Regions from separate parts of the Homo sapiens genome. Here regions 2, 3 and 4 are each linked to region 1. The links come from fine-mapping of genetic effects on gene expression. A gene starts in region 1. Each other region holds a variant in brackets. All regions are shown on one strand. Distances are from middle to middle.

Region 1 (5,155 bases):
TTTATACCACAATCTGATTTAAGTTAAAAAAGAAAATAAATCTATTTATATAGCATCATTTTGGCTATGGCTTTTGTTGATACAGCTAAGGCTTTTGTTGACTTTTTAACAAAATTCAGTTCAATTTTCAGGTATACACTGCACAAATAAAGTGGAAAAATGATTATTACCTAGTGATTGTAAGCTATTTCAACCCATTCTTGCAAAAATTTCATTATGAATTTTCTATTAAAGTATATTTTTATAAAACTATCTTTAAGAGTAAATTTATTGATCAGATAATCACAAACTTTGAATAATTTGCTATTACATCCTAAAATAACAGGTAGAAGAGGACCTTAGAGTCTTCTTGAAATTTCCTTTCTCTGTCAGCCTTTATGCTGATTTTAATTATCCAAGGTCAAGATCTTTTTTATGGATGGGACAACTATGAGAAAAGTATTTATTGAAAGTGGCAAGTTGTCCTACTCTGGAAAATCTACAATTGTCATTTGATCCAAGTGCATTGACTGGACGACTCTTATTTTTATAAGGAAAGAAGCTGTTTTCAATTTAATAGTCATGTTGTTAGTTCTTTCTCAGATGACAAAAATCATAACATAATTTGACTCCTAAAAATTCCACATGAATTAAAGAATAAAGCATATAAAAAGGAAATAATAACAAAATATAACAAAATAAGAAAACATAGGCATCTGTATGATTTTGCAGAGATACGTGTACTTCTAGATATAAAAAAGGAAGAAATCACAAAAGAAAATGTTGCTACATTTGAATACCTAAAGATGACAAGCTTCTGCCAGAAAAGCTATCAGAAGTAAATTTAAAAGACTACAAAAAAGTATTTGTAAGATATATGATAAACATACACAAAGCTTATGAAGATTGCTAACGAATCAATAAAAAATGGAACTTCAATAAAATGGCTAAAGTGTGCCAGTGAAAAATTCTCACACCCTGACATGAGAAGGAAAAATGCAAATAGCTAGTAGATATATATAAAAAATCACTCGATGTCACCAATGATAAAAATACATTTTAAAAATAATAGCTTTTGTCTCTTCTACCAAAATGATAAATATCTGAAGTATTATAATCTAGGGTGATGTGAAATAAATACTCATAAACTGCTGGTAACAATTGCTACAAATTTTTTGGAAGGAATTTGTACACTATTCGTCAAAAACTTTAAAAATACACATATCATGTGATCCAATGTTTTCACTTCTAGAAAGTTATCATAAAATATTTAAAGATGCACACAGATTATGTTCCAAGGGCATTCTTTCCAGAATTATTAATAACACTGAATCCTTAAACAATGCCTAATATCTAATAGTAAATTACATGTATCTAAAGAGTAGAAAATATTTTACAATTATTAAAGTTGTGTTGTTGGAGACTTTAATGACTTGAGAAAATATTTATGTTATTAAGAATAAAAATAAAAGCAGGTTACAAATTATTATTCCAGTTTTGCAGTACACACAGAGTTAAAAAAAAAAAAGCAAGGAAATTCCTCAACATGTTAATACCATTAACAATGTTATCTCTGGGTGGTAGGATCTCTAGTTATTTTTATATTCTTCCTGATACTTTTCAATATTTTCCAAAATGTTTACAAATAACATATATTGTTATAATCAGAATATAGGTGTGATACACAAATCTATATGTGTATACATACACACAAACACACATATACAGAGACTTTCATGTGGAAATTTTGTTAAAAGGATATTAGAGATAATGCCACAAACAAATGTGCCACAGGCCAACTTATAATGAGTGGGCCACGTGGATTTGTCCAGATATTCAATAATCAGAAATTTGGATGCTTCTTTTGAAAAACACAATAACTCACCCATTTACAGAATCTGAGATCAAGAAGGGATCTTGAGATCCTTGCCACTGAGGAAGGCCTTATGTCCATCTTGTTCACCATCACCTAGTTCAGTATGTTTTTGAATGAAAGAAAAAACGAAGAGCACCTCAATCATCGCACAGATGGAGAAACTGTTTCCTCCAGAAAACACAGGGCTTAATGCCCAATGTTACACATCTCCACAAAATAACACCAATAGCAGCAATAATTATGGCTACTACTACCAACACATGTCACCTACTGTGTGCCAGGCACTCTTCCAAGTGCTTTATGTACATCAACTTACTTAATCCTCATAATAATCCTACGTGGTGGGTATTATTTTCATTAAATAGGTGAGAAAACTGAGTCACACACCACGTCTACACCTCAGTCCTCTTTCTTCCCCGCCATTTCATGCACACCCTAACTAGAAATTCGATCTGACGCTAGCCAGCATGGATCCTTACAAGGGATGTTCCGAGGGCACATCTGCGTGTTTGTGTGCAATGAGGAAAGTGGCGAGCTTTTTAAAGACCCACCGCCAGAAAACAATGTCCTGATGTCCTGTATTTACTCTGGCTTCATCCCGGGAGCGCCCCTCCCAGTGGGCCACGGGGACCTGAGACAGGCTACTCCACGGGGTCCCCAGCCTCTCTCGCCCTCTAGCGCGAGGCGAGCGCCGCGCAGCCCCTGGGGACCCGCCGGGCTGGGCCGCAGCCCCCGCCCGCGCCACCTGCTCCCCAGCTCCAGCGTCCCCGCCCCGCGTCCCGCCCCCGCGCCGCGCCCGCGCCCCGCGGTCCCTCCCTCCGGCGTGACGGGAGCATCGGCGCTGGCTGCCCGGGCCGCGAGCGCAGCAGAGCTGTCAGCGGGCGGACGGGCAGCGGGTGACGGAGCGGCGAGACGAGCGCACAGCAGTCGCGGCCCGGGAGCCGGAGCTGCCGCCGCACCCCGGGAAGGCTGCCTTGCCGCCGGCCCGCCGACCGCGGCCGGACGAAGATGCTGTTCCGCGCCCGGGGGCCGGTACGGGGCAGGGGCTGGGGGCGGCCGGCGGAGGCTCCCCGCCGCGGGCGCTCGCCGCCCTGGAGCCCCGCCTGGATTTGCTGCTGGGCGCTCGCCGGCTGCCAGGCGGCCTGGGCTGGGGACCTGCCCTCCTCCTCCAGCCGCCCGCTTCCTCCTTGCCAGGAGGTGAGCAGCACCTGGTCCTCTACCTGGAGTTTGCTGGGGGAGGGCGCGGAAGATGAAGGCTGAGAGCGGTTCCTGTTTATTTCTGTTTGCCATCCCCTTTTCCTTTGCTTGGAGAACAGGGGCTTTCGTTTGCTTCGAGGGGTGAAGTTGCCCGCCCTGGTAGCTGGCCCGGAGAGGGTGTGTGGCTTCGCTGTCTCTCGGGGGATGCTTTTCTGTCCGCGCTTGTGTCTTTTGGGGGCTCTGCAGGACTTTGCGGCGTCCTTTTTGGACAGCCAGGTTTGAGGACCTGGGGTCGAGGGAAAGATTTCAGGAAGGGGAGGAGACTGGGGAAGCCCCACCAGTGGGATTTGAAGAACCATCTCATCACAGCTTTTCCAGAGAGCCAGACACAGACACCAGAGGATTTCCCGCTCCTCCTCCCCCTGTCTCCACTCCCCTGTCTCTGCAAACGCCTTCGTCCTACTCCCCTGCCCTCAGCTTCCTGATTAAGGCCCTGTGGGTTTGCTAAGCCAATGTATGGTGTCACTTAGCATCCTTCTGACAAAATGTGGATTTGAATTTGGGGGGGAAAAAAAAGGAGTATGTACTTGGTAGAGAAGATGCAGGTTGATGATGGAGAAAATTAGAAAAGACAGTGAATATGCTTCTTTTGGGAGGTGCTTTATCACCTGGCTGAAGTATTGCCGCGGTGTATTTTATAGCTTGTAATCATTGTTGTTTTACAGCCAAAAAGGATAAACTATGGGAGATGAGATTTTTATCTGGCTTTTAGAAGAACGAGACAGTGTGCCAAAAATTTACAGGGGGTGTCATTGGTTCTTGTATTGGGTGTTTATCTTTCCATTTAGTGTTCAGAAAGTGCATCCTCTTAATGAAAATCAATGAGGGGAAGGAAGCAACATTTCTGACCTACTTTGATTGTGTTGGGAGGATATATGGAATAGATACTGTTTTTAGGAAGATTGTTAGGAATCAGGGCGATGGGTCGTTTTAATTAATGTAGCAAAAATAGGTTAGCCAATAGCCCCTCTGGGAAGAAAGGCCAGACCCTCTTGTTTGTGTATGTTGCTCTAACTTCTGAATTTTACCGAGACTTGAATTACAGAGTATCTGTGTTCTACACATCATCCATCATCTATGGATTTTCGTCTTTCTCTCCTACAGTACAGGTCCCAGGACAGACTGAAATGAAAGAGAATCGGATCAAAGGCTTGTGTGCGAACACACAGCAATGTTGTAATTGGGGAAATCAGGGCAAGAGCTCAACAAACAGCTGTGTTTAATTTTAGGGCTTTTTAGTATAATGAGCTTAATCTATATTCTACAACTTTACATATCACCTGGGAATAATCCATTATTCCAGGTTTCCACAGAAAGCTGCTTCTTGGACATCTCAGATTGAACAGTTGTGACAAGATAAACTTTATCCTCCAGCCCCCAACTTCTAATATGCAGAATATATTTTTCTAAACTGAAAAGTCTTAAGCTTCTGATAACATCGATTCTTAGTAATGAAAATCTGCTTGAAGTAGGCGAAGGTCAGGGTCAATAGAAGTGATGCCTTTGGTCTCTACAACTAGACTAATCTTTTAGATGAACACATGTCCTACACATGTATACCTAGAAAGAAGAGTCTGCAACCTAAAACAAAGATTGAAAGGAGGGGCAGAGAGATGACAGAAGGTTCAGGAAGGCTGGGTTCACTTGATCACAGGTCCTTACTGCATTGGCTTTAGAAATTGCATGTGACTCATCCGTTGAGATCTGAAATTTACATTTTCCTTCTGAAAAATGAGAATAAATAAAATATATAGGAGGACGCTATTGAGCCTGCCTTTGGCTGTATGTTTTTATAAATGTTAATGCACAGATCCATTTATGTTCTTCCTGATGACTGACAAGTAAGAGGAACTAATGGGAGTTAGAAGTTCTTGGAAGTAGAAGAGGCCTAGTGACCTCCCAGGGGTTGAATCTGTTTGATATCTGGTCTAACCAGTGGAGCTAATTTACAGAATTGGTCATTGTTTTTCTCTGACATTGTTTTTAAGAGGAAAGTGGGGAGGGCAAGTTATTTTCAGACTTTGAAGGTAAAGGAATGTTTGT
Region 2 (5,155 bases), 55 kb after region 1:
TAGAAAATGTGTGTTTATGTCTGCATATAAACGTGTGCATATCTACCTCTTTATCTTATTTCATTCCATATCTGTTCATATTAAAAACTACAAGTTTGTGCTGGTAACATTAATTCCACTTGAACAGCACAGTGTACATTCATGTCTTTATCTTTTTTATACTTGTAACTACTTTCTCCAACAATGAGAAACCTGGTTTCAGTTATACTCAGTGTATATACTCATTTGCTCAAGTCTAGAATACATGGAAATTGGTTTCAGAATTGTTGGCCCATACCACTGCAGAAAGCAAACCTACTAACTAGGGTTCTGTATTTGTTTACTTTTTTGAGGTACAGTGTACATACAATCAGATGCACAAATGTTAAGTGTACAGTTTCAGCTTTGACACATGCACATATCTGTGTCAAGACAGGGTACTTCTATCACTCAAAACACTCCATTTTCTTTCCAGTTAATTCTCTCTCCAACTCTGCTGCCCAGAAGCAAACACTTTTCTGACTCTTTTCACCACAGTTTAGTTTTGCTGGTTTTAGAACTTTATATAAATGGAATTATACAGTACATACTTTTGTGTGTGTGTCTGGCTTCTTTCACTCAACATCATGTTTTTTGAGATTCATCCACATTGTTATGCATATCAGCAGTTTGTTTCTTTTTATTGCTGAGCAGTGTTCCCTTGTATAACTGTACCACAATTTACCTATTTTTCTGTTGATGGACATTTGGGTTGTTTCTAGTTTTCAGCTATTTTGAATATAATAAGTGGCTGTGAATATTTTTGTACAAGTCTGCTTTGTGGACATTATGGTTTTATATCTTTTGGGTAAAATCTTGAGTAGAATGGCTGGACCATTGGATAGGTGTTTATTGAGCTGTATAGGAAACTACCAAACACTTGTTCCAAGTTGTTTTCATTCCTATCTGCAAGATGAGTGTTCTAGTTGCTTCACATCCTTGTCCACATCCTGAGTTTTCAGTCTTTTTCTTTCTTTCTTTCTTTTTTAAATTATACTTTAAGTTATGGGGTCCATGTGCAGAATGTGCATGTTTGTTACATAGGTATACATGTGCCATAGTGGTTTGCTGCACCCATCAACCTGTCATCTACATTAGGTATTTCTCCTAATGCTATCCCTCCCCTAGCCCCCCACCCCCCAACAGGCCTTTTTATTGTGACAATTCTAGTGGATGTGTAGTGGTGCCTCATCGCGATTTTAATTTGCATTTCCCTGGCAACCAATGATTAAATTACTTCTGTAATTGATTAATTAAATTATTAAATGACTTTTTAATGTGTGTATTGGTCATTTGTATATCTTTCTTTGGGAAGTTTCTGTTGAAGTCCTGTGCTGATTCTAAATTCTAAAACTCATTCTGGTAAATTTTAGCCCCGTGTATGTGCTAAAAGGTTAGCTAGCAGTGGTTTATGAAATGTGATCACAAAAAGCCAATTTTTAATTGAATTGTAGAAGCTTTTAATATATTCTGAGTGCAAATTCTTTGCCAGAAGTATGTTTTCAGAATATTTTCTTCCAGTCTATGACTTGCCAGTTCTGTTTTCTTAATGTCATGTTTTGGTGAGCAGGAATTTTAAATTTCAGTAAAGTCTTATTTACCTTTCTTTCTTCTTTTATAATTATTGCATTCTGTATTTGGTCAAAGAAATCTTTCCTACTCTTGATCATGAAGATAGTTTCTTGTTTTCCTCAAAATGTTTATAGTTTTAACTTTAACACTGAAGCCTATGACCCACCTTGAATTAAACTTTGTACCTAGGTATGAGAGTAGGAATTGAAGTTTATTTCTCCATTTGGATATTCTGTTGTTCCAACACCATTTGTTGAGAAGATCTTTTCTTTCCTTACTGAATTATTTTGGCACCATTTTGGAAAATCAGTTGTCCACATCAGTGAGAGTTCTCTGAATAATTTTAATTACAAATATGGCTTTGATTTTCATTGAACTGTTACTCTATATTTCAAGCAGTATTCATAAAAACCTACATTCAGCTTTTACCTAGGGAAATCCTGTTGTGTTCTGAATACTCTTTCCTTCAAATGCCAGGACAAATCATTGTGTTTTTTGCTGTTAGGTGAAATATGTCATGTGTGGATCTAGCACATATGCCATTTTCTTCTCTCAACATTGTCCTTTTGCCAATATAGAAGGCTTCCTGGGTAATTCTTTTTTAGCCCTATTGAGGAAACACAGACTTTAATGTCATAAAATAGTGCTTCATTTTTATCAAAGCATTATGTGCCATGATGCTTATAGTAAATACAGTAAAAGCAATTGACATGCCTTTCTTTTTTTCCTTTTGTTCATTTGTTTGGTGTATACGTATTGAGCTTCCATTATAAACTGTCTCACTGTGGGCCCATAAGGATTAATGACAATTCATTTTTTGTGGTCACATTTCATAAATCATTGCTAGCTGACCTTTTAGCACATAGACAGGACCAAAGTTTGCCATAATGGGCACCTTGCACTCAGCCCATACAATATGCACAGAGGAACCCTTCTCCTACTCCTTGAAAGGATTAGGAAGCTGCCTTGGAGATCTCATTATTGGTAGCTCTGGGCAGTTGCAAAGAGGGGTCATAGCTCTCCTTCCTACTGCTTACTATGTAGGATTTATTTTCCCAGGGTTAGCAATTTTCTTTGGGGTCTGATATTCTTTAGAGAAAGATACTTAAAGTTGTAGATCATTTTTCTCTGTTCTTTCTCTTTTATGCATAGCAGTTTAGGGCCTCCTTCTCCGTTAATATGTCCGATGGCCTTCATGATGAGAATGCACTGTCTGTAATTAGCTGTGCAGCTGATGACGTGCCTCCAGTAGCCACCAGCATGTGACCTTGATAGTATGTAAGTGTTAGGAAAAAAAGTGTTGGTTGGCTGTTATCTCTAATCCACCA[C/G]AGCTGAGCAAGAATAATGGCAGATGACAGGGCAGGCAGGCTGAAAACTCCTATGAAGAGTTGCTTTCTGCAGCATCTTGTGTACAACAGCCTGTCAAAGACACTTAGAGTTTGTGGTGGGAGCTCCACATGGCTGACAAGGCAGCAGCATTATGTTTGGTGTGTGGACATGTATTGAATTTGTATTAGCTTCTTTTGTAAGGCAAAGTGAAAGTACGTAATGAAATGAGTAACGTGTATAGAAACATTGATTTTGTTTCATACTGGGGCACAGAGGCCAACCCTGTTCTCTGCTCTGGTGTTTGAATGGGGGCTGATCTTTAGCCTGCGGCTATTTTGCCTTCATTTTGGAAACAAGCACATTCTCCCTTTGTTGTCCCCCACCCATCCAGGAAAGAGAGGCATCTGTTGTCATATCCATTATTTATCTGTGAGAAACAATTTTACTTAATTATCTTCTCGGCTCCTGCAGGCCTGCCTTGGCCCTCTCCCTTTTGAAAGGATAATAGGACTCGATGCTGTTAATATGTTTTAATTAGTGAGCTCATGGCACAGCCAGTACCTCACACTTGACTTTTTAGATGGCTTTGTAGATAAGAACCTCTGCAGCAAAAAGGGAAGCCTGGGAGTGTGCAGGCTTCCTTTGAGCCATGTTCAAGTCTCACAGCAGCTAAGCGAAGTGCTTATTTTCTCAACACCATTATTCCTGTCTGACTCTGCCAAAGTGACAGAGATTGCTTTCTAAGTTACTTCATGTGGCTTCTTTGCATTGTTGGGAAAATGCTTTATTCTCAGAGGCTGAGCTTCTTTATTTTAAAATAAGGCATTTGAACCACAATAAGCTTTCAGGCACTCTTGTGCTATAAGTTTACATTCCTTGATGAATGTTGAGATTCTGGAAGCCATATTTGCAAGTTGTATTAGCTCGTTCTCACATTGTTATAAAGACCTACCTGAGACTGGGTAGTTTATAAAGAAAAGAGGCTTAATTGACTCACAGTTCCACAGGCTGTCCAGGAGGCATGGCTGAGGAGGTCTCAGGAAACTTACAAGCATGGCAGAATGCAAAGGGGAAGGAACCACATCTTCACATGGCCAGCAGGAGAGAAAGCGAAGGGGGAAGTGCTACATACTTTTAAATAACCAGATCTTGTGAGAACTCACTATCATGAGAATAGCAAGGGGGAAATTTGCCCCCATGATCAAATCACCTCCTACCAGTACCCTCCCCCAACACTGGGGATTACAATTCAACATGAGATTCTGTTGGGGATACAGAGCCAAACCAGATCCCAAGCCATAATGTCAGAAGCTCTCAGATCCAAGGAAAGGGGTTCTTGGCTGGTACCATATACATTATGGCCTTGGGAAAAGTGTGGGTTTAGCTGACCCCTGCAATATTAGCCTGTCTTTGCCTTGGTAAAAATGTAGGGCAGGGTTATTTTAACATCTTATTTCTTCCTTATCAGAGAAATGCTCTTTGTGTTATCAATCCCATAAAGAAGGGCTTGCTAAGAGATGGCAGACCTGTAGAACCTGTGTGACTCTACCTGTCTACCCATCTAAGGACTGAAGAATTTCTGGGAGAGCAAATTTATGATGTAGTCATTACCTTCTTCCTCCTCTTAGGAGCGCCATTCATCCTGTTTGCCTCTCCAAAATCAAGCCCTAAAGCCAGGGAATGTCTAGTCCAGGATGTAGCATGGGAGGTTTTGAAGGAGTGTGGTTCATTTCTCACCTGCAGTTACTGTTGGCTGGCAACTCACAGAAGTGTCCCATGCTCTGCTACAGTGAAGTGCTGGGGGATGGGGTATCTAGCCCAACATGTGCCAAAGCTTCACAAAATCCTGAAAGACTGGGAGTGAGGGGCTGTAATTTCCTGAAGTACTCAGTGTTAAGGATACAGTAGGTAGTTGAGTGGGAGGCATTGGTGGGCTTCCCTGGGAACTCTACCCCCAATGAAGTGAGGAGACACATGCCTGATGAGGGAGTGTTCTGCCTACCCCTGCTGGGGTCTAGAAGAGTCACAGAAATTCCCCTCTCAGAATCTTGTGTGCCTTCATGGAGGAAATGATGCCTGGTAGCATCCTTTGCCTACTCTAAGAAAAGTTGAGTGGTAGAAGGCTTTAGTATTTAAGCACTCATATAGAGGGAGCCAACCATTCTCATGGTAACAATTATATATCACTGGCATCAGATGGAGAAGTAGCAATGGCCACCAGAAGGAGACTGCTGCT
Region 3 (5,155 bases), 280 kb after region 1:
AAGTCAAAGACGGATTATTAAGTGGTTTATCCTGTTTAGATTCCAATTCAGAATTCCTCAGAAGTGAACAAAGAAGAGCTATTTCAGTTTTCCTATTCTCTAAGTTACTGTTTTCAGACTACCTTTTTTTTTGGGTAAGGCTTTTTTGGGGAAGCCTTTTAAAGATCCCTAGTATTTTCAGTAGTCCTAATATTTTTGTGCCAGCTACTGTTCTAATTGTTGCAGATGTGTTTTCTCATTTAATCCTCAGGGCATTCTTATGATGTAGATACTACCATTATCCCATTTTATAGCTTGAGAAACTAAGGTAAAGAGTGCATAGAGATCTTACTGAGGAACCCATAAGTGGTAGGAATTCTGGGACCACTCACTGTACTCACTTTTGTCATATTTATCCAGTCCATTCTGCAATCCAAGCTCGTAATGGATTCCTCTCACTATAATGATGCAATGATATATTTCAAGGTATAATGTTTGTCTGTTTTTTTGTTCTGAAGCCATAAACTCCTTTATTTGAGGATCATGACCAATCATCCCTTGCTATCAAAAGTATGCTTTTCATTTGTCAGTCTGTGCTTTGTGGTGACTCCATAAACATTCGTTTACTGACTGGCCATCAACAGAGATAACAATGATAGTCTAAGAGTCTACTGGGAAATTTCCACGGGGGCAATGAAAGCTTCAAGCTATAAATATCAGAGTCAGATTTGGCTTTCTGATTTATGTGAGAAACACAATGGCCTTATAGCAGAACCCATTAGTTCCTAGGGCCTGAGAGGCGGCATGCAAGTAAGTTATGTTTAGCAGAATCTCTTTCCATGTGTAGCATGTACTGTCATTTTATTTTCAATGTTCAGATATTATGCGGTACCCATTTTCTTGGTGTTTTGAATTTATCCAGGACTTAGGTGTTGCAATGTTTTCATTGCAGGTTATCAAGTCACAGATGTGATTAATTTTGCTCAAGAAGAAATGCTGGACTTGGCCAGATATGATTATGTTTGCCAGCAGATGCAATGTTATAAAATTGGTATTTTTTAATTATACTTTAAGTTTTAGGGTACATTTGCACAATGTGCAAGTTTGTTACATATGCATACAGGGATCTAGAACTAGAAATACCATTTGACCCAGCCATCCCATTACTGGTATATACCCAAAGAATTACACATCATGCTGCTATAAAGACACATGCACACGTATGTTTATTGCGGCACTATTCACAATAGCAAAGACTTGGAACCAACCCAAATGTCCAACAATGATAGACTGGATTAAGAAAATGTGACACATATACACCACGGAATACTATGCAGCCATAAAAAATGATGAGTTCATGTCCTTTGTAGGGACTTGGATGAAGCTGGAAACCATCATTCTCAGCAAACTATTGCAAGGACAAAAAAAATTAGTATTTGTGTCTTTTCCCCATTGTTGTAGTTATAAGCTGGTGTAATTTAGAATGGGCTTTACTTGCAGTAGTTGTCTAACAAACCATTGCTAAATGTTATTAAATATCTGCCACCATTTTCCCAATATATTTTTTTCTTCCAAATAAACTCAACTTTATGGAGAATCTCTGACTTACTGTGATGTTCCTTCTGTCTAGAATGACCTTTACCACTTGTCTGCTCAGCTAATCCATTCAAGGGCTTCTTCTCTAAGGAACCGTTCTAATGCCTGACTTCAGAATGACTTGTGTGCCCATTCTCTGAGCCTCTTTCATTCCCTCATGTGTTTCTCTCATGGTACTAATGAAAATATATGGTGATTTCTAGATTATTCACTAAGTTCTCCACTGGAGTGAGAACTCTCGTTAATCTCTGAATTCTCAATGCCTCACAGAGTATAGAGGTGCTCTATAATATTTGTTAAATGGATTGATGAGGGAATTGATATTTTGCTGCTCTACCATGTAACCTTTTCTAATTATAATGATGGGTTTGTGTGTGTGTGTGTGTGCGCACGTGTGCACATGCACACACGACGGGGAAGCTGACCACCAGCAGGCAATATGAAGCCACTCTGAAATATGACTGATAAACAATTTTATTGTGCAATGTGGATCTTTAACTAGTCATATTCATTTTTTTATTAAAACGAGATGACACATAAGACAAGGAATTGATTTAGACCTTCAGGAATCAACTCACACCACTTGCTCCCTTATTCTTGCTTTAGGAATGTTTAAAACTTTATTTTTTTTCACAATCAATAGCCAATTGTGGAATGATGCTACAGTAGGCATCCAAGCCATACTCATTCACAGATGGGAATTTTTAGTTCAATACTAATTTATTTGGAAGTTTTATTTCTCATGATATTTTCTAACAAGGCATAGAGCCTTCTTTTTAGGATCCCAGGTGCCATGCTTTATTTCAATGATGAGTGTGTGTGTGTATCCAAATTTTGCTTTTGTGTAAGAATACCAGTCATACTGAATTAGGAACCTACCCTACTTCAGTATGACCTCATCCTAACCTAAGTACATAAGCAATGACACCATTTTTCAATCAAGTCACATTCTAAGGTACTGGGGGTTGGAACTTCCAATATTATGTTGAATATAAACTTTCAGTCTTTTAGCACTGAGTATGACATTAGCTGTATATTTTTA[G/A]TATACGGCTTTTTATTACACTGACATAGTTTTCTTCTATTTCTGTGTGTTGATTTATCACATGTTGTGCATTGCTTATCATGAAAGGTGCTGTGATCATGGGAGCAAAAGAATATGAGCTATGAGAAAGATCTCAGGCAGTTTACTCTATTCTTTTCCTGTTGTGAAAAAAGAGAATGTGAACTGGAAAATATCAGTCACTTGTGAGCCCCCACATCAGTTCCTTATTTACTATTTCTACTCAGGATATACATGATGTATCAATTTCAAACAGAGCTTTGTGCCTTCTATGCTGACACAATGCCAAATATTTTTTTTTCAACACAAGACAAAAGGACTGTGGACATGTAGAATCTGGTAGAAACAAGTTTCCCACTAAAGTGATTTTTTAGTGCTATGAGAATTATTTTCAGAAGTTTTACAGTTATTGGCTTCTGAATTTGTGCTAATACATTAAAGGGAACAATAATAAATAGTTTTATGAGGATCTATACTTAGCTACAAAAATTCCAGATGACAAAGAGGCATCAAATGCCCACTTCCAAGAAGAATGTTATTTACAGAGCTGAACTATATACATTTAAAAAATAAACCATTGCTACTGCCCTGTAATCAGGAGACTTGATAATAACCTTCATGTTTATTCTCTGCTGTTCACCTATCTTTTTGGGGCTGTTTTCTAAGAATAAGTCTACACCTTTAATTGCTTTGTCACACATGCAGTGCTGAATGTTTTGTTTAGTTCTTTTAATTAAATGCTTATATATGTGCCTGGAAGAGAACCATTGAGTTGCTGCACTTTGAACCATCTGTTACCTCATAGCACAGGTTATTACATAAAAACAAGTTCTAGAATTTGTGATGTTTAGAGACCTCAGTGTCCCTCCTATTCAGCTTGTTCAAGTTACATTATTAGCTGTACAAAATCCCAGATTGGCTTGTATTTTAAACTGGAACTGGAGGTGGTATATAGTTGACAAAACTGCCTGAGAAATTCAAGCTGTTCACATCATATGAGTTATCTGCCCATAAAGGAGTCCAATCATATTGTTATTGCTAAAAGGATTAGTAACTTTTTTTGTTTTGTTTTGTTTTGGCCACATTACCTGTAGCACATCTGGGAACAATTTGCATGAAAACAATTGATGCCCATGTCCCAAGACCAGGAATTAATGTTGATTTTAGAAATCGTATAATGAAGTATAGCAAATACCAGTGTACGCAGTATAATATGAAGAGGTCAACAACTCTTACATGCCATGGGCCCCAAAAACACTTGAGTCAAAGATCCATATTGGTTATCACCATTCAACAGCATGGCTCAGTACCAGTGATTTCACATGGACATTCCAAACAAAGGACTCCCTAATCATAGTGGAAACCTTCAAAAATTGCTCAAAGTCACCCTGCTTTCCATCCCAAGTCTCTCTGAAAATCATTGCACTCATCTCCTGTAGTTTGTAACCAGGATTGTCACACACTTTTATTTTCTTCATTTGAAACTGAAGGACTTCTTAAATAGTAAGGTTATTCATTTTGGCATTTTCATAACTCATCATTTAGGTTGAAGTGATATGCAGACCACAAAGGATTCCTCGAATCCTATCATTTCAGGAGACTGGTATTAAAAGACATGTCATATTTCTCACCATCACGATGCTATTCCACATTCAGATATCTAGCTTGTTCCCTTACTAACAAGGAACTATCTCAGGAATAACTTTCTTTCCATCCAGATTTAGCAGGTACTTACAAGACAAACAAGAAGGTATTTTGCCCACTGAATTAGTCTGCATCTGCTCTTTGCTTCCCTTTTCCCCCATGCATTAGTTTTCAGGAGAAATCACAGAAGTGAAGTGGTTCATGTTCCAGTTCCTAACAACAGGATCAAAAAGTCTGTGTCATATCTGGTGTCAAGAGTGTTTGTGTTTGCCAGCAACACCTGCGAAAGCATGACTTCCAGGGTGACTTGACATCAAAAGACCTGTTAGAAACACATCGTTTAGTACCTCAGATATTGATTTTTGACAATGTCTCTTGAAGTTTTAACAGAGCCACAAGTTGAGCTAATCTATATTTTTCTGTGGTCCCTGAAGTCACTTGTATAACAATAATATGAGAAATATGGCCTTATCAATAACAAAAGGCATGCCAATCTTTGTCAGTTGTTAACCAAAGGACAAAAGCTGTTGGGTATGCTTGGGGATAGCTGAGGGCTATAGCCTAATATTTCCTTAAATGATTATCATTTACTTTTGAGGTCTTGGGGCAATAATTTAGGGCAAAGGTATATTCACCATATTGTAGCAAACAGAATTGTGTTATTCATTGTTTTCTTGTTAACTACTCTTTACTTCAACAGAGCTGTCAGACACAAAAGAAGCAAATGGTATTGAAGCAAAAGAAGCAAACAGTGCACAGGGTTGGAATCAGGCCAGCATTGGAATCTCAGCTCCTCTCACTAGCTGTGTGACCTTCGGCTAGTTATTTTAACTCCTTAAGCTGCAATTTCTTTATCTGTCAAAAGAAAAGGATAGT
Region 4 (5,155 bases), 37 kb after region 1:
TTTTGAAGAATTATGCTCAAATTTGATTTTACTTGAAATGTTTTAAATTTAGTAAAATTATTTAATGTTAGAGGCTTAATAGTTCTTCAATATTATGTAAAAAATTGGCCTTAATTTACAGTAGCTTGAAAAGCATAATCTAATTTTAATTATCCAGAAGAAAAATTTTTAATCACTTTTTTTGGAAGTGAATTGATTGGCAGGTAATGCTCAATTGGTTATGTGTGCACCAGAGTGTGGTGGGATAAGCATTGGCCTGTGAGTCAAGAGACCCAGTTACAAGATTTTACTTGTCATTAATTGTGTGACCTGAGTAACTTGCTTTCTGCTGGACTCCATCTTCTCATTTGGCAAAGAAAGAGACTGGTTTAGATCATCTGTAAAGTCCTTTCCAAGCTTGACATTTTATGACTTTATTTCTTCTTGTTTTATATTTTTAGATAAAATAGGAATTAGGTCTTTGCTTTTTGTTCGATACTCTTGACTGAAGGGGGATTTTTCCTGTCCAATATGGTCATACTGGGCAGAGAATGTAGCTTGATGGTTTTTAGAAAATAAGCATTGTCTGAAAATAGTCAACAAGAGGGCTTGGTGAATCTGCCAACAGATGACTGCTTCTACAATTTCATTTAGTCATCTAAACGAATTGAATTTAGACATTTAGCATGAAATACTTAGTATTCCTCAAGACAAGGTTTAGGGACCATAGAATGTCTTAGCCTTCTATAATTCTGACTTGGTTTATCAGGTGACCTACAGTATGGAGGAATCATAATCTTATAAATTACATCCATGACAGCCTATGGTTTTTTTTTTTTTTCTGTAGGAAAAGACTCTTAGGTCAGTGATGTAAGGCAGGCATGGGTGATACTTGCTTTTTATTTTAAAAAATAAATTTTATTATTGCCTCAATTTCAGAGCCTGTTATTGGTCTATTCAGAGATTCAACTTCTTCCTGGTTTAGTCTTGGGAGGGTGTATGTGTCAAGGAATTTATCCCTTTTTTCTAGATTTTCTAGTTTATTTGTGTAGAGGTGTTTATAGTATTCTCTGATGGTAGTTTGTATTTCTGTGGGATCGGTGATAATTATAGCTTACCAACCAAAAAAAGTCCAGGACCAGATGGATTCACAGCCGAATTCTACCAGAGGTACAAGGAGGAGCTGGTACTATTCCTTCTGAAACTATTCCAATCAATAGAAAAAGAGGGAATCCTCCCTAACTCATTTTATGAGGCCAGCGTCATCCTGATACCAAAGCCTGGCAGAGAGACAACAAAAAAAGAGAATTTTAGACCAATATCCCTGATGAACATTGATGCAGAAATCCTCGATAAAATACTGGCAAACCGAATCCAGCAGGACATCAAAAAGCTTATCCACCATGATCAAGTGGGCTTCATCCCTGGGATGCAAGGCTGGTTCAATATATGCAAATCAATAAACGTAATCCAGCATATAAACAGAACCAACGACGAAAACCACATGACTATCTCAATAGATGCAGAAAAGGCCTTTGACAAAATTCAACAACGCTTCATGCTAAAAACTCTCAATAAATTAGGTATTGATGGGACGTATCTCAAAATAATGAGAGCTATCTACGACAAACTCACAGCCAATATCATACTGAATGGGCAAAAACTGGAAGCATTCCCTTTGAAAACTGGCACAAGAGAGGGATGCCCTCTCTCCACTCCTATTCAACATAGTGTTGGAAGTTCTGGCCAGGGCAATCAGGCAGGAGAAGGAAATAAAGGGTATTCAATTAGGCAAAGAGGAAGTCAAATTGTCCCTGTTTGCGGATGACATGATTGTATATCTAGAAAACCCCATCGTCTCAGCCCAAAATCTCCTTAAGCTGATAAGCAACTTCAGCAAAGTCTCAGGATACAAAATCAGTGTGCAAAAATCACAAGCATTCTTATACACCAACAACAGACAAACAGAGAGCCAAATCATGAGTAAACTCCCATTCACAATTGCTTCAAAGCAAATAAAATACCTAGGAATCCAACTTACAAGGGATGTGAAGGACCTCTTCAAGGAGAACTACAAACCACTGCTCAATGAAATAAAAGAGGATACAAACAAATGGAAGAACATTCCATGCTCATGGGTAGGAAGAATCAATATCATGAAAATGGCCATACTGCCCAAGGTAATTTATAGATTCACTGCCATCCCAATCAAGCTACCAATCACTTTCTTCACAGAACTGGAAAAAACTACTTTAAAGTTAATATGGAACCAAAAAAGAG[C/T]CCGCATTGCCAAGTCAATTCTAAGCCAAAAGAACAAAGCTGGAGGCATCACACTACCTGACTTCAAGCTATACTAGAAGGCTACAGTAACCAAAACAGCATGGTACTGGTACCAAAACAGAGATATAGACCAATGGAACAGAACAGAGCCCTCAGAAATAATGCCGCATATCTGCAACTATCTGATCTTTGACAAACCTGACAAAAACAAGAAATGGGGAAAGGATTCCCTATTTAATAAATGGTGCTGGGAAAACTGGCTAGCCATATGTAGAAAGCTGAAACTGGATCCTTTCCTTACACCTTATACAAAAGTTAATTCAAGATGGATTAAAGACTTAAATGTTAGACCTAAAACCATACAAACCCTAGAAGAAAACCTAGGCAATACCATTCAGGACATAGGCATGGGCAAGGACTTCATGTCTAAAACACCAAAAGCAATGGCAACAAAAGCCAAAATTGACAAATGGGATCTAATTAAACTAAAGAGCAAAATAAACTAACATCAGAGTGAACAGGCAACTTACAGAATGGGAGAAAATTTTTGCAATCTACTCATCTGACAAAGGGTTAATATCCAGAATCTACAATGAACTCCAACAAATTTACAAGAAAAAAACAACCCCATCAAAAAGTGGGCAAAGGATATGAACAGACACTTCTCAAAAGAAGACATTTATACAGCCAAAAAACACATGAAAAAATGCTCATTATCACTGGCCATCAGAGAAATGCAAATCAAAACCACAATGAGGTACCATCTCACACCAGTTAGAATGGCAATCATTAAAAAGTCAGGAAACAACAGGTGCTGGAGAGGATGTGGAGAAATAGGAACACTTTTACACTGTTGGTGGGACTGTAAACTAGTTCAACCATTGTGGAAGTCAGTGTGGCGATTCCTCAGGGATCTAGAACTAGAAATACCATTTGACCCAGTCATCCCATTACTGGGTATATACCCAAAGGATTATAAATCATGCTGCTATAAAGATACATGCACACATGTTTATTGGGGCACTACTCACAATAGCAAAGACTTGGAACCAACCCAAATGTTCAACAATGATAGACTGGATTAAGAAATTGTGGCACATATACACCATGGAATACTATGCAGCCATAAAAAATGATGAGTTCATGTCCTTTGTAGGGACATGGATGAAGCTGGAAACCATCATTCTCAGCAAACTATCGCAAGGACAATAAAACCAAACACCACATGTTCTCACTCGTAGGTGGGACTTGAACAATGAGAACACATGGACACAGGAAGGGGAACATCACACACTGGGGCCTGTTGTGGGGTGGGGGGAGGGGGGAGGGATAGCATTAGGAGATATAACTAATGTTAAATGACGAGTTAATTGGTGCAACACACCAACATGGCACATGTATACATATGTAACAAACCTGCATGTTGTGCACATGTACCCTAAAACTTAAAGTATAATACAAAATAAATAAATAAATAAATTTTAGTTTAGTTTATTCACTAACCTATGGCTGTCAACTGCTGAGGCCTTATTTACTCATTTGAAAATGATCATATTCCACAGGGATGTTTTATAAGACAATTATTCCTAAATAGAGATATATCACACTCTGAGCTGGCAAAAGCTCAACTTTGTAAAGATGTCTGTTTGCCTCATTTTAATCTGTACATTTAAAAGAATAGCCCCCAATCCAAATATAGTTTTGCCTCCTTGGGAATGTGTATCTGTTGAAGGTGTAAGTTAGAAATTTAAATGTTCTTCAGGTTTGTAAGATAGACTTTGTTCTGAGATTAGCTGGGAAAATGCTGAAAAATAAATGTGTTAAAGAGAGGTATTCTCATAACTTACAGGTGAGAGTATAAATGATTAAAGACTGTCTGGAAACAGTTGGGTAATATTTATCAAGAGCTTTAAAATACATGTTCTTACCAGGTATTCTGTATCTATTTCTGTAATTATCTTAAGTAAATTGGTTAACTAAACAGTGGTATACGTAGAAGGTTGTTATTCATCTTAGTGTTATTTATAAACAACCCACATTTTTAAGAGGTGACTGGTTAAATATATTGTTTCCTTATGATATGGATATCATGAGTCATTAAATGTGTTGATATGGCAGTATATTTATTTACATGGAAGAGATTTACAATATATTAGGCAGAATACAAAACATCTTATGAAGACATTGGTGTAGGTATATATGCGTGTGTATCTATTTGGGAAAATGTGCAACAAATTAACTGTGATTATCCCTGGGTGGCAAGATTATGTATGTCTTGTCATCCTTTATTTCACATATAAAGCTCTATTTCTAGTTTTTCTACAGAGATCATGGATTCTTTGAGAGGAAGTAAAACATAACAGTTAAAGCAGTTGAGAGGGTTGAACTCAGTCTGGCTGGGTTTAAATCCCAGTTCTATCACTTACTAGCTGTGTAATCCTTAGCTAGTCACTTTATTCTGTGTTGTTCTAATCTGTAAAGTAGGGATAATCATAATAGAAATTAATAATACCTACCCCATAGAGTTGTGAGGATTAAACATATTTAATACATATGAACTCTTTAGAACAGCTCATGCTACTATATTAATGTTAGACTTTATTATTTTTGTAATAAAAGTAGCACATGCAAGAGAAACAGACACACTAGCATACCTGGAATCTACTGGTAGAGGAAATGGTCTCAAGCGATTGAAATGATTTGGTAAATTTTAAAGAGGAATGTGATGACTGGATGTTTACTTTTTTCTTTACAATTTCTAAATTTTAAATTTAAAAATTATTAAGGCTAAATTCATTTAACATAAAATTAATCATTTAAAAGTGAAAACTCAGTGGCATTTAGGATATGTATAAAGTGTGCATTGTAACACTCCAAAACATCTCCATAATTCCAA

Which allele goes with the higher level. Alleles are on the strand shown, and positions count from the first base shown. SD is a standard deviation of normalised expression in the study named. Not every link is listed here.
In carriers of allele C in region 2, the expression in subcutaneous fat of the gene that starts at base 2,723 in region 1 tends to be higher than with G alone (small effect, 0.30 SD a copy in GTEx).

What was found. PIP is the estimated chance that this variant, and not a neighbour inherited with it, causes the effect. A credible set is the group of variants that fine-mapping cannot tell apart.
Region 2: its variant is the best candidate, but not a certain one, in a credible set for the expression of ELAPOR2 in subcutaneous fat (GTEx, PIP 0.57).
Region 3: its variant is the best candidate, but not a certain one, in a credible set for the expression of ELAPOR2 in whole blood (TOPMed, PIP 0.86).
Region 4: its variant is the best candidate, but not a certain one, in a credible set for the expression of ELAPOR2 in whole blood (INTERVAL, PIP 0.85).

What each region holds. Positions count from the first base shown.
Region 1 is chr7:87,057,222-87,062,376 of GRCh38, reverse strand. ELAPOR2 (endosome-lysosome associated apoptosis and autophagy regulator family member 2) reads left to right here and starts at 2,723. Exons shown (of 22, transcript NM_001142749.3): 1 at 2,723-3,052. The coding sequence starts at 2,864. RefSeq lists silencers at 2,446-2,835, 2,926-2,995 and an enhancer at 3,261-3,761.
Region 2 is chr7:87,002,377-87,007,531 of GRCh38, reverse strand. The region is part of intron 1 of ELAPOR2 (endosome-lysosome associated apoptosis and autophagy regulator family member 2); the gene reads left to right. Among named protein-coding and RNA genes, the nearest start is that of ELAPOR2, 55 kb to the left of the region's middle. The variant C/G (reference allele first, on the strand shown) is at 2,919.
Region 3 is chr7:86,776,230-86,781,384 of GRCh38, reverse strand. All of the region lies in intron 2 of GRM3 (glutamate metabotropic receptor 3), which reads right to left. GRM3-AS1 (GRM3 antisense RNA 1) reads left to right here. Exons shown (of 4, transcript XR_007060408.1): 3 at 1-5,155. Among named protein-coding and RNA genes, the nearest start is that of GRM3-AS1, 25 kb to the left of the region's middle. The variant G/A (reference allele first, on the strand shown) is at 2,618.
Region 4 is chr7:87,020,653-87,025,807 of GRCh38, reverse strand. The region is part of intron 1 of ELAPOR2 (endosome-lysosome associated apoptosis and autophagy regulator family member 2); the gene reads left to right. Among named protein-coding and RNA genes, the nearest start is that of ELAPOR2, 36 kb to the left of the region's middle. RefSeq lists a silencer at 4,188-4,388. The variant C/T (reference allele first, on the strand shown) is at 2,260.